Regions from separate parts of the Homo sapiens genome. Here region 2 is linked to region 1. The links come from fine-mapping of genetic effects on plasma protein levels. Region 1 holds a variant in brackets. A gene starts in the other region. All regions are shown on their forward strands.

The links. PIP is the chance, under the fine-mapping model, that this variant and not a neighbour inherited with it causes the effect. Protein levels are from antibody-based Olink assays in UK Biobank. Linkage for the fine-mapping came from a reference panel and not from the study's own genotypes, which makes the PIPs less certain.
Region 2: IKZF2 starts here. The variant in region 1 is fine-mapped to the plasma level of the IKZF2 protein (UK Biobank, PIP 0.99).

Annotation. Positions count from the first base shown.
Region 1 is chr22:22,217,965-22,223,340 of GRCh38, forward strand. It overlaps IGL, the pseudogene IGLVIV-53 and the pseudogene TOP3BP1. Among named protein-coding and RNA genes, the nearest start is that of VPREB1, 24 kb to the right of the region's middle. The variant C/T (reference allele first, on the strand shown) is at 2,499.
Region 2 is chr2:213,149,222-213,154,597 of GRCh38, forward strand. It overlaps IKZF2 (IKAROS family zinc finger 2), which reads right to left and starts at 2,391. Exons shown (of 9, transcript NM_001387220.1): 1 at 2,192-2,391; 2 at 923-1,026. RefSeq lists an enhancer at 16-115 and silencers at 2,482-2,541, 2,622-2,981.

The DNA.
Region 1 (5,376 bases):
CCTCCTCTCCCTCCCCCTCCTAGCAGTGCCCAGTGTCTATTGTTCTCATGTTTATGCCATGCGTGCTCAATGTTTATCTCCCACTTAAAAATGAGAACACGTGGTATTTGGCTTTCTGTCCCTGTGTTAGTTGCCTAGGATTATGTCCCCCTGCTGCATCCATGTTGCTTCAAAGGACATTATTTTATTCCTTTTTATGGATGCATAGTATTCCATGGGGTATATAAACTATATTTTCTTTATCCAACCCACCACTGACGGGCACCTAGGTTGATCCCATGTCTTTGGTATTGTGAATAGTGTGGTGGTGAATATACAAGTGCATGTGGCCTTTGGGTATAATGATCTATTTGTCTTTGGATAGATACCCTGTAATGGGATTGCTGGGTCAAATGGTAGCTCTGTTTTAAGTTCTTTGAGAAGTCTTCAAACTGCTTTCCACAATGCCTGAAATACGGTGTATACGTGTTTTCTTTACTCTACAGCCTCACCATCAGCTGTTGTTTTTTTACTCTAATTATAGCCATTCTGACTGGTGTGACATGGCGTCTCATTGTGGTTTTGATTTGCATATCTTGATGATTAGTGATGATGAGCATTTCTCCACAGTTTTGTTGGCCACTAATTTAGTGCAGTTTTAAGTTCATAGCAAAATACAGAAGAAGGTAGAAAGATATTCCCTATCCTCCCTGGCTCCACACATGTCCAGCCTTCCCCCTTATCAACGGGTCCCATCAGAAATGTACATGTCCTGTAATTGATGAACCACATTGACAGGTCATTATCACTACAAGTCAGTATTTTCCTTAAGGAATTTTTCTCGCTGATGCACATCCTATGGCTATGGGTTTGTGCAAATATATAATGACATATATCCACCATTACAGTATCATGCAGTGTATTTCCCTTCCCTACAAATCTTCTGGCTTTACTGATTCATCTCTCTCTCTCCCCTAACCTTTGGAAGTCGATGACTTTTCTACTTTTTTCCTTTGTTTGACTGTAATACACTTGAAATTATTTCCCCCTTTTTGGACTGTAATATACTTGGAATCACGTATCATGTCATTTGCAGGTCAGCTCCTTTTACTTACTAATAAGCATTTAAGTTTCTTCCATGTCTTTTCGTGGTTTGATAGTGTGTTGTCCATAAACATGTAGAATATATTAATATAAAGTACTTTGGAGCTGATCACATCACTGGCCATTCAGGTTTTTCAATTACTGTTTGTTGAATGACAGTGACCAGTCAGATGACAGGAAGTCTTAGACCCCCTGAGAACACAGAAGATGGACTGAGGATGTCAGGGTCACCGAGGACTGCACTGGGTGCTCTCATGGAGGGCTCAGTAGGGGTGTCCTCTAGTTCCAGTGAGCCTGGACTGTGATGGGCACTCAGAGAAGGGTCCTCTCTAGCCTAGCAGAGCCCCTGCTCACAGGCCTACCAGCTGTCCCAGCAGCTTTCCCTCCCAGGTCCTTCCGTGGGGCAGACAGAGTCTCACTGCCTGTTAGCCCTTCCTACCCACAAGACCCTCAGCAAAAGATCCTTATTCAGTGCTCAGGGAGAGGTGGGGCAGATAGCAGCTGGGGCCACACCTGCATGACCAGCTCCTCCTCGCTGAGGCCTACAGCAGGTAATAAACTCAATCCATCCCACTGGACCAAAGGGAGCTGTGTCTACCATGGCCTGGACCCCTCTCGTGCTTGTCCTCACTCCCTGCACATGTAGGGAAAAGGCCTAGAGACCTGGGGCAGTTCCCAGCTTGTGTCAGCCCCTCTGGCTCAGACTTGCCAACAGCTTAACCCTGACACCTGCTCCAACAATGTAAATGTTTGCATTTCCAGGTTCCCTCTTCCAGGCTGGGCTGACCCAGGTGTCCTCACTCCCAGCATCTTCATGCAGATCAAACACTCACCTGCACTCAGAGCATATCGGCTTTCATATCGGTGGCAAAAATACCTTCTTTTCCCTACAGAATCCAGGGAGCCCTCCAACTATGTTCTGAGATTATGCTCAGGCTAAAATGAGTACCAGGCCTCTGGGGTCCCCAGACAATTCTCTGGGTTGAGAGGCTCCTCCAGAGTCTCAAGTTATTTGGTCGTCTCTGGCCTTCACCTTGAGGATGGAGCAGATCATCTCTCTCAGATGGGCTGACAGGGCATGGCTTACACTGTGCTCTAGGCCAATGGGAAAATCCCCTCTGCTTGTGCTGCCTGGGCTCCCACTAGGCCCCTGCTGTTTGTGACAACAGCCAGCACTGGTGGTGACGCTTCAGCCATGTATGCCCTACGGTGAGAGTCTGCAGCCCTTCCACGCAACTATCACTTGCAGAATGTCTGCATCATTGCTAATAGCACATTCTGAGCCTCCTCACGTTTCTGTGGGCAACAATTTCCTTCCCAAGACGTGCACATGATACAGGAGATTTATTTACCAAATAAGTTTATTAGGAATCCAATTATAATTAGAAGATATTCATCAGTGATCGGGGGAAATA[C/T]CTGGTATAATTAAAATAGAATTTGATGAAAATATAAATAAAGAACTAAATTATGAAGGTGTGGGCAGAGAGTCTGGACACCCTAAGGGAGATGGAAAACCATTCATCCTTGCCAGGAATGAATGTCTCTGGGATGCTTCTCTAACAGGAGGAACCTGGAGTGAGACCAGGAACCTGGAGAACTAGCAGCTGGGTGACTGGAAAGGAAACCATCTGGGGTGGGGTTGGGTCTGCAAGGCAGGAGGTGTCTGGGCAGAGAAAGCAGGGCTGGGGCGGAGGGTCCTGCCTCATCCCATTCTCCTGCTCACTCCTTCCTAGATCCCTGTCAGGGCAGTAACCATGAGCAAGGCTTGAGGCTACTTCTTATAAACTGTGGCCCTGGGCACATTCCTTAGCTCACCTGAGCCTCAGTTTCTTGATGAGAAAAAATCGGGACAATAGCAACCAACCTATCTCAGAGGGCTGCTGTGAGACCCTGAGCCACTGTTTCTCAAACTGCCCCTGAGATCACCTACAACAGAATGGCTGTAGGGTGAAGTTTGAGAACCGCAGTATAGGTGAGGTGGTGCGTGGGGCAGGCCCTCCCACACTGTAAAGTGCAGTGTGGTGCGGTAAAAGCTGATATTCCCGCAGGCATCCTCAGAGTGGGCCCAATTAGACTCTTGAGCACTGATTCCATTCAAGGTCTGCGGCTTAGAGAGGATGGCAAAGTGAGGCACCACCAGGAGCTTGTCCCTATGGGCTCCAGGCCAAGGACGTGCCTGGAGATGACTCCTGCCTTGTGGCGCTGTCACTGCCTCACTGTCCACATTCCATCACGCCTCAGATCCTGGCTTCCACCCTGGTGAAAGGAATCTTTCAATATCACCCACCCAGCCACAGACGCTTCTCTGCTTCTCTGGCAAGGCTGCACCCCTGGCTAGGTGGGCAGGGCCAGGGGCTCCTTGAGACAGTCTGCAGCCACTGAGCTCTCCAGCCTCCAGGGCAGAGGTACAGTCCCATGGAGCGTGGCTGATCTGAAGGCAGTTCTGGCCTAAAAGGGGTCTTGTCCCTTCCTCGTCCTCATTGCTCCCAAGGCCAGGTTGGCAGCAGTAGCAGCGGGGTTGGATGCTATTGGATGGGAGAAGGTGAATGGACTCGGAGTGCAGAATCAAGCTGCGGAAGCCAAGGGCCTTGAAGGAGGGTCACACACAAGGGACAACTGCAGAGGAAAATAAAGGAACACTTTGTGATTAGCCCTGCCTGTGGCTGAAAGCGCAGTGCAGAAGCATAGTAAGGAAGGACTGGGTGGTCTGGGTTTAAGACCTAGGAACCGTCTCTGCTCCTCCAAGCCTGAATGAGCCCTATAACCTAAGGGTCCTGGAGGTCTTGAAACCTTCTGCGGAGAAGGCTCCAGGTCCACTGGGCCCTGTGGGTGGAAGAGCAGAGTCACAGCCCCGCACTGGGGACCTAACAGGTGTGGCCTTGCTAGGGCCCCAGAATGGGACCAGAGTGGGTGGGAGGGGGCAGAAGCTCTGAGAGCACCCCCTCCTTCCTGAAGCCTGTGCTTCTGAGACACATCCCAGGACCCTCTATGTGGTTCCCCATGTCTCTGTATTTTCATTCAGCTTCGAGTAGCTCTCCAAACTGTGTTCCAGGGAACCCCCGTGTTAACCTGTGAGGGCCTCCAGGAAGGGGGTCCAGGTGGGGTATGCTTGGTGGGCTCTGGGTTTCCTTACAGGAGCTCTCATATAAGTCCTGGTGCAGCCTGGGAATCTACTACTGAGTTGGGGCGGGGGCGGGTCTGAGTCCGAAACATTCCTGACCTGCCCCTCAAAGAAAGGTCCCACTGAACAGTCTGGAAAGCTGTTTTGCTGAGCTCCCGTCATCACTCAATGAGGCACGGGCGGAGTGTGGAGGGAGTTTCCAACACACAGTGGATCCCGCACAGGTGTCTCTCCTCGGGTGGCTGGGGAGGGGAGCACAAGAAGGCACTGAGGTCAGAGGGCAGCTGCCACCAGCACCTGGCACCACAGGGCAGTCTGGCCTACAGGGTATTTTCTAAACCTGGCATGTGAATGGGTTCCATGGGGCACCCAGCTGCCTCTAAGACCATAAGGCCTTGTTGTGAGAATGGGAATTGCAGCAGGTCCTGGGAAGCTGCCAGACGCACACGGGCACCATGTACAGGGCTTCTCAGAGATGGGAGCAGGGAGCAGGGGACGGAGAAGCGTGGGGTCAAGAGCGTGGCCCTGAGCAGGGGGCTGCAGCGAAGACCAAGGGGATTCATAAGCCAGATCCAGGGAGGGGGTCTCCCAGCCCCACCTGCTCCACTAAACTCCTCTCCTGCCGGAGCCACAGCTGTCAAGGCCGCCTTCCTTAAGGCATCAGGGCCACTGCTTGTGCACACAGCTACCATCAGCAGCACGGATTGAGATGGGGTGTGAGTGCAAACTGGGTCTATTCCCCAGGGCTTCAGGGTTGGGGCATCCCTGCCCGTACTGCCAGGGTGTAGGGATAGCAGGGAGCACTCTGGGCACGTGTATGCAGGCTGAAGGGAGACGTATTGGGTTTCGGAGAGGGAAAGAGGGCCCCACAGGTGCCCAGGGACACGGTAACGCTCTGACATCGCTGCACCAGCAAAGGGGCCCCAGCTCTGGATAAGATAAAATGCATTTTAATAGTTTGAAGTGCCATGAGGTGTCTGCATGGCACTGCAGCCTGGGTGAGGGAGGACAGGGTCATCATACAAAGTAGGCGGCCAGGGCTGACATCTTGTCCTTGGGCCGTCTGGGGTTGGGCTTCCCAGGGGGCCTCCTGGCCCGGCCCCGCCCTCGACCCTGCCTTCTCCCTGGTCCACCGCGGTGCATGGGGTGGCAGGAGGCCGCATGCTTCAGCT
Region 2 (5,376 bases), not on the chromosome of region 1:
GTGTAAGCACCTGTTCAATGTAACCTTAATTTCCTGCCAGACCATGCTTGGACACAAATGCCAAGCCTACTTAATACAGTCTGATTTTGAAAATTTCATAAACTTTGGTTGTGCTAGAGAGAATCATTTAAAAAAAAAAAAAACTTTGGGCAATTATTCTCATGCACAAACGCCACACAACAGAACATAATTCTCAGAAACAAAAGTAAACTGTATGAGATGACACCCCCTAGCTTTGATTCACATAATGAAAAGATCGATAATCTAACTGTATTCTGTGGGGAAAAAAGTTTAAGAATTGACAAGTCCTGAGAAGATTTTTACTTTTTTTTCCCCCTTTGGCCTTGGTCCTTTTTGCCTTTAGTTTCAAAACTCTCACTGCACCAGCAGCTAAATTATTCACAATGAGCCATTTCTGTATTGATCGCCAAGTATATTTAGCCCTGGCTCCTGGAATTTCTCCATTACTTACTGGAAAACAGGCAGCTTCACTTCTTGTCTCCAAAACCACTTCCCTTCTCCCTCCCCTCCCCTTCTTCACCACCACACTCCCTTACCCCCCCCCCAAAAAAAAACTTTTATTTCTTTCTTTATGGAATAATCAGATCAAATTCCCAACTCAGTCACTACATAGCACTTAAATTTCAACCTGCTGTACTGTTATCACATTCTTTTAAATTATGATTACATAAGGCTTTAAAGAAAGAGATCCGTAAAGTTTAAAAGAGGAGCAGTTTCTTCGGATATTTTACAAATGAGCTTATCTCTTTAAAAATGTACACATTTAACACACACATATTAAAAAGAAAGAAACGTCAGGGAGAAGCGAAAGAAGGCTGCCCCATCAATGAAATGGTTATTAACCCTCAGAGAAGGAAAGAAGGAAAAAGAAAAAGGAGAAAGAGAAACGAAATGTACATACAAAAGAAATTGTCCTTTGATTAAAAAAGATTCATCACCATTTCCAGCTCTGTCGGGAGATCTCAGCTTCTTCTAACCCCTCAAAGAGGAGGTGACAATGTCGGGCTGAAGATAAACGGAGGGAGAAAGAAAGAAGTTTTTTGTGTTTCCCCCTTCTCTCTTTCCCTCCCTTGCCCCCTCCAAGCCAAGCCCCCTGCAGAGTTCAAGGGGAGGAGGAAGGAAAAGCACTTTACAGGTGGGTCATTCCAAGCCCAAATCCAGCAAACAGATCGGCTGATAAACAAAACCAAGAAATGAGAGAGAAGAACACCCCCCTCCTCCTCCTCCTCCTCCTCGTCCTCCTCCTCCTCCTCCTTCCACCCCTCCCCCTCGTCCCTTAGGGATGGTCTAGTAGGAAAAGTCACTCAGGAATGGCACCACGTACTTTCAGGAAAGAGGAAAAAAAAGAGAGAGAGAGAGGTCAGTCAGTGCTATAGCAATGCGATTAACAAGAGAAAAAACTTGATCCACCGGTTCCTTAAGAATCGACCAAAAGCTAAGACAAGAAAACTGAAAGAAAAGGGGGGGGGGGCGGGTAGAGGGGAGGGACAGTCAGGCAGAACCCAGCTAGGAACCCAGGCCAACTTCACAGGACTGTTTTTGGCCCTTGGCAAAAAAGAAAAAAAATAAATAAATCTTAATTCCATCTCTTTCGCCCATACTAGAACCTGTCAAAGTGATTTAACTGCTGCCTGTTTACATGTGTCATACCAGGGTTTTTGGTTTTTTTTTTTTTTTAATTCCAACAGGATCTGGATATTACCTTCTATCTGGACAGCTTCAATTTATTCCAGCCTACCCAATCTTTCTTCTTGGAATTCAAGTTAAAACAAAGCAAAACAAGTCCAAATTCATGACAGCTATAGAGATGAGAACTGATTAATCGATTAACATCCCAGAAACAGATTACAAGGAGGGGACGATAAATTAAGGCAGAGGACATCATCTTCAACCCGATTCCCTGAGCGTCCTTTACAAAAATCATTACCCTAATCAGAACCACAATCCATCCCTCCCAGAGAAAAATACCTATATTATTATTATTATTACTGGTTAACAGCAACAAGTCATTTGATCACATCACAGTGCAAAACGAGATGCTATATAATTACACTTAACTTTGAAAACACTCCCCCCTTTGCAAATCATACACATATTTATATATAATCTATGAATCAGAAGACAAAACAAGAGCTGTTCTTCACCACGCAAAAGCCAAGCGGAGATTTACCTCAGCAGTGCATGCAGTAAAATAATCCCATCACCCTTTTGTTTGTGTTTACTGTTAATGTGTCCTCTGTCTTTCTTTCTTTCCTGTGCCTAACGTGTGTTTGTGCACTGCAGTTGGTGGTGGAAACTAAGGCAGTGGATCTGTAGCTAAGGGTAATCCTGTTTTTACTTCCTCCATCTTCAGCGAGGAGCAGGGTTAGCCCGGGACAGCTGGTCAAACCCCGAGAAACCGATCCGGTGGAGCCCGAGCACATCTCCCCCGCCGGCCGGGCTCGCGCAGACGCCCGCGGGCGGAGGGCGGGCTGGCGGCGGCTGCGGCGGCGGCGGCGGCGGGCGGCTGGCGGCGGGCAGCGGAGCCCCGGGCGCGGGCGAGCGGACGTGCGTGCGCGCGCGTGCGTGTGTGCGGGGCCCGAGCGCCTGTGCGTGTGTGTATGAGAGCGCGTGTGCGCGCGCGCGCGGGCTGGCGGGCGCGTGTGCGCGTGTCTGCGCGCTAAGCCGCTCGGCGCGCTCGGCAATCGATTACAGGACAAGTGCTGCCCCGGAGGCTCCGCGACGCGCGCACTCCCTCGCGCCCACCCGCGCGCCCGGCCGCGTCGCCCCCAGCCCGTTGGTCCCCGGACTGCGGACCCCGCCCCCGACGGGGGCCAGGTAACCCGCTTCCGAGTGTGCCACGGCGACCCCCATCTCCCCTCCCCGTGTCATAATAAATCTCACGTTTTCTGCCGGCTGGAGGCTTGGAGCGGTGAGGTGACGTTCATTTCGGCCGCGTGAAGTTTTCTTTCAAACTGGGATTGGTGGGGAGGCCGGGGGAAGGGAGCGGGGCGGCGATCTTGGCGCCCTGCGCGGAGTCCGGGAGCCGCGTCCCGGCCGAGTCGGGGAGTGTGCGTGGAGCCTCCCACCTACTGGTCTCCGCCGGCAACTCTGCGGCCCCATTTCGGAAAGCGCACCGCATTGACCGGGACCTGAAGCGGGATAAGAGGGGTCCTGGGGAATAGACTGAGAAAGACATTCATGTCTGAGATGAAGCTCAACTATTACTATTTTGAAAGTGCTTTAACAGTGCAAGTTTAAAAACTAAAGTGTTGACTTGCTTTTTCTCCCCCGGGGCATGTGCCACGTCTTCCAAAGTCAAAGGAACGGATGAGTACAAAAAGTTGCTACCCTTGAAGTGTTACCTATCACTATCAACCACAGCTTGTTTATTTGGAAAGAACTTAAGTGAACCGTCAAGAGAAAAACAAATGCATATTCTTTCTACAAATAGTAGCATTTAGTATCTTTCCTGACCACATTTGCGAAAAGAGGGAATAGAGACTTCTATAATTAAAGGGAAAAGGAAAATGAAAGGAGCTGAAAATAGTGAACTGTGTAGTCTGGATGGCTGAAATTTGAAAACACATGAAATTATCAGGACTGCCAAACGGTGTTCCTGAGAAACCATATCACAGATTGTGAAGAAAATCAATGCTAGAAGAGTCGGAACAGGCACCGTACTCTTACTCCTTTGAAGAATCCCAGAAATAGTTGTTGAGGTTTTTTTTTTCTGCTGAGAAAAAAAGATATATTGGAAATTAAGTCATCAACAGTACCTTAAGCACCACTCTGTAGGTAATTTTGGATAGTGTCTTTTCTTTACATTTTGATATAGGGAAGGAATTAATTCACATCGACACAAACGAAGTAATGGATACCATATAACTTGTGTGATACTGTAGCTTTTATAATGAATTACTTCTTGAAAGTTTTTTTTCCTATACAATGTATTATTAAACAATTGTAACGATAGTCTCTTTTTGTTTAACTATAGAAAATGGTAGATAGTGTGGTACAGCAAACAAGATTAACAAATTTTCGTTGGAGAGAAATTATTTGGGCTCAGGCTTGCAATAACATTATGATGATTTTAAGAAAAATTGCAGTTCCTGTGAGTTATATATTGATAAGGCAGATTTTTAAACACTTAGTTGCTAAAATTAGTTTTCCTAAAGTCGTATTTGGGAAAGTCTGAGTAGAGAACCAGTAAGTCACTCTAATCATCCCAACAGAGAGCAAATATTTTAGTCTTAAATTACCTCAAAAAATCTGTATGTCGTTTATAATATGTAAATGCACAATATGTAAAGGATAACATAAGTTCTCGAAATTGTCATAAGTCCTTCCTAAAAACTGAACCTAAGTGTTTAGGTATCTGTACTGTTACAGAGATCCTTGAAAATATGAAATAAAGATAATCGAAATTAAGATGAAATGTCTGATAGTTTACACAATGTAATTATTTGGTAGAAGAGGATCCATTGTGAAATCTTAAAGATACATCCTCACAGTTACCAAGTTGATGTAGTCCTTGCCCCTGGTTTATTGAAGCTTAATTTAGCTTCCTTGAAGCTGGTCCTTTTCAAGAGTTAACTTTCACTGGCTGCCTAGTCACCAGAGGCACACTTTCTCCCTCTAGTGGCTAAGGCTTCAGACACTACATTCTGTCACCCTGCCTCCCCCTGAATGGATCCCAGATTTTAGAATAACAAAGATCTCATGACCACCTGGGAGAATTGGACCATCTTGGCAAATGTTTCCCTCTTTTTAACATCCTACATTCCTTTCTTATTTGCAGGTTATGGTGTATCTAACTCATCCAGAGAAATCAAGATTATGTTTTCATACCAAGATTGGGGGTTTTATTTCATGCCTGTGGAGTCTATAGTCCTAAGATTCACAATGCAATCCACTCATGGGAAAGAACCCTTGCATAAACTGTAATTCACTTTGTTCAGAATTTCTCTGGGTAGTTTTGTTTGTTTGTTCGTTTTGGTTTTGTTTTTGTTGAGACAGAGTCTCACTCTGTCACCCAGGCTGGAGTGCAGTGGCGCCGTCTCGGCTCACTACAATCTCTGCTTCCTGGGTTCATGCGATTCTCCTGCCTCAGCCTTCTGAGTAGCTGGGATCACAGGCGCCCACCACCACACCTGGCTAATTTTTGTATTTTTTAGTAGAGACAGGGTTTCACCATGCTGGCCAGGGTGGCCTCGAACTCCTGACCTCAGGTGATCTCCCAAAGTGCTGGGTCTCCCAAAGTGCTGGGATTACAGGCGTGAGCAATTGCGCCTGGCCTCTCTGGGTAGTATTTTGATAGTTAGAGGGTGCATTTATTTCTGTCCTTTGCCAGAAGACATAGACTGTACACATTTT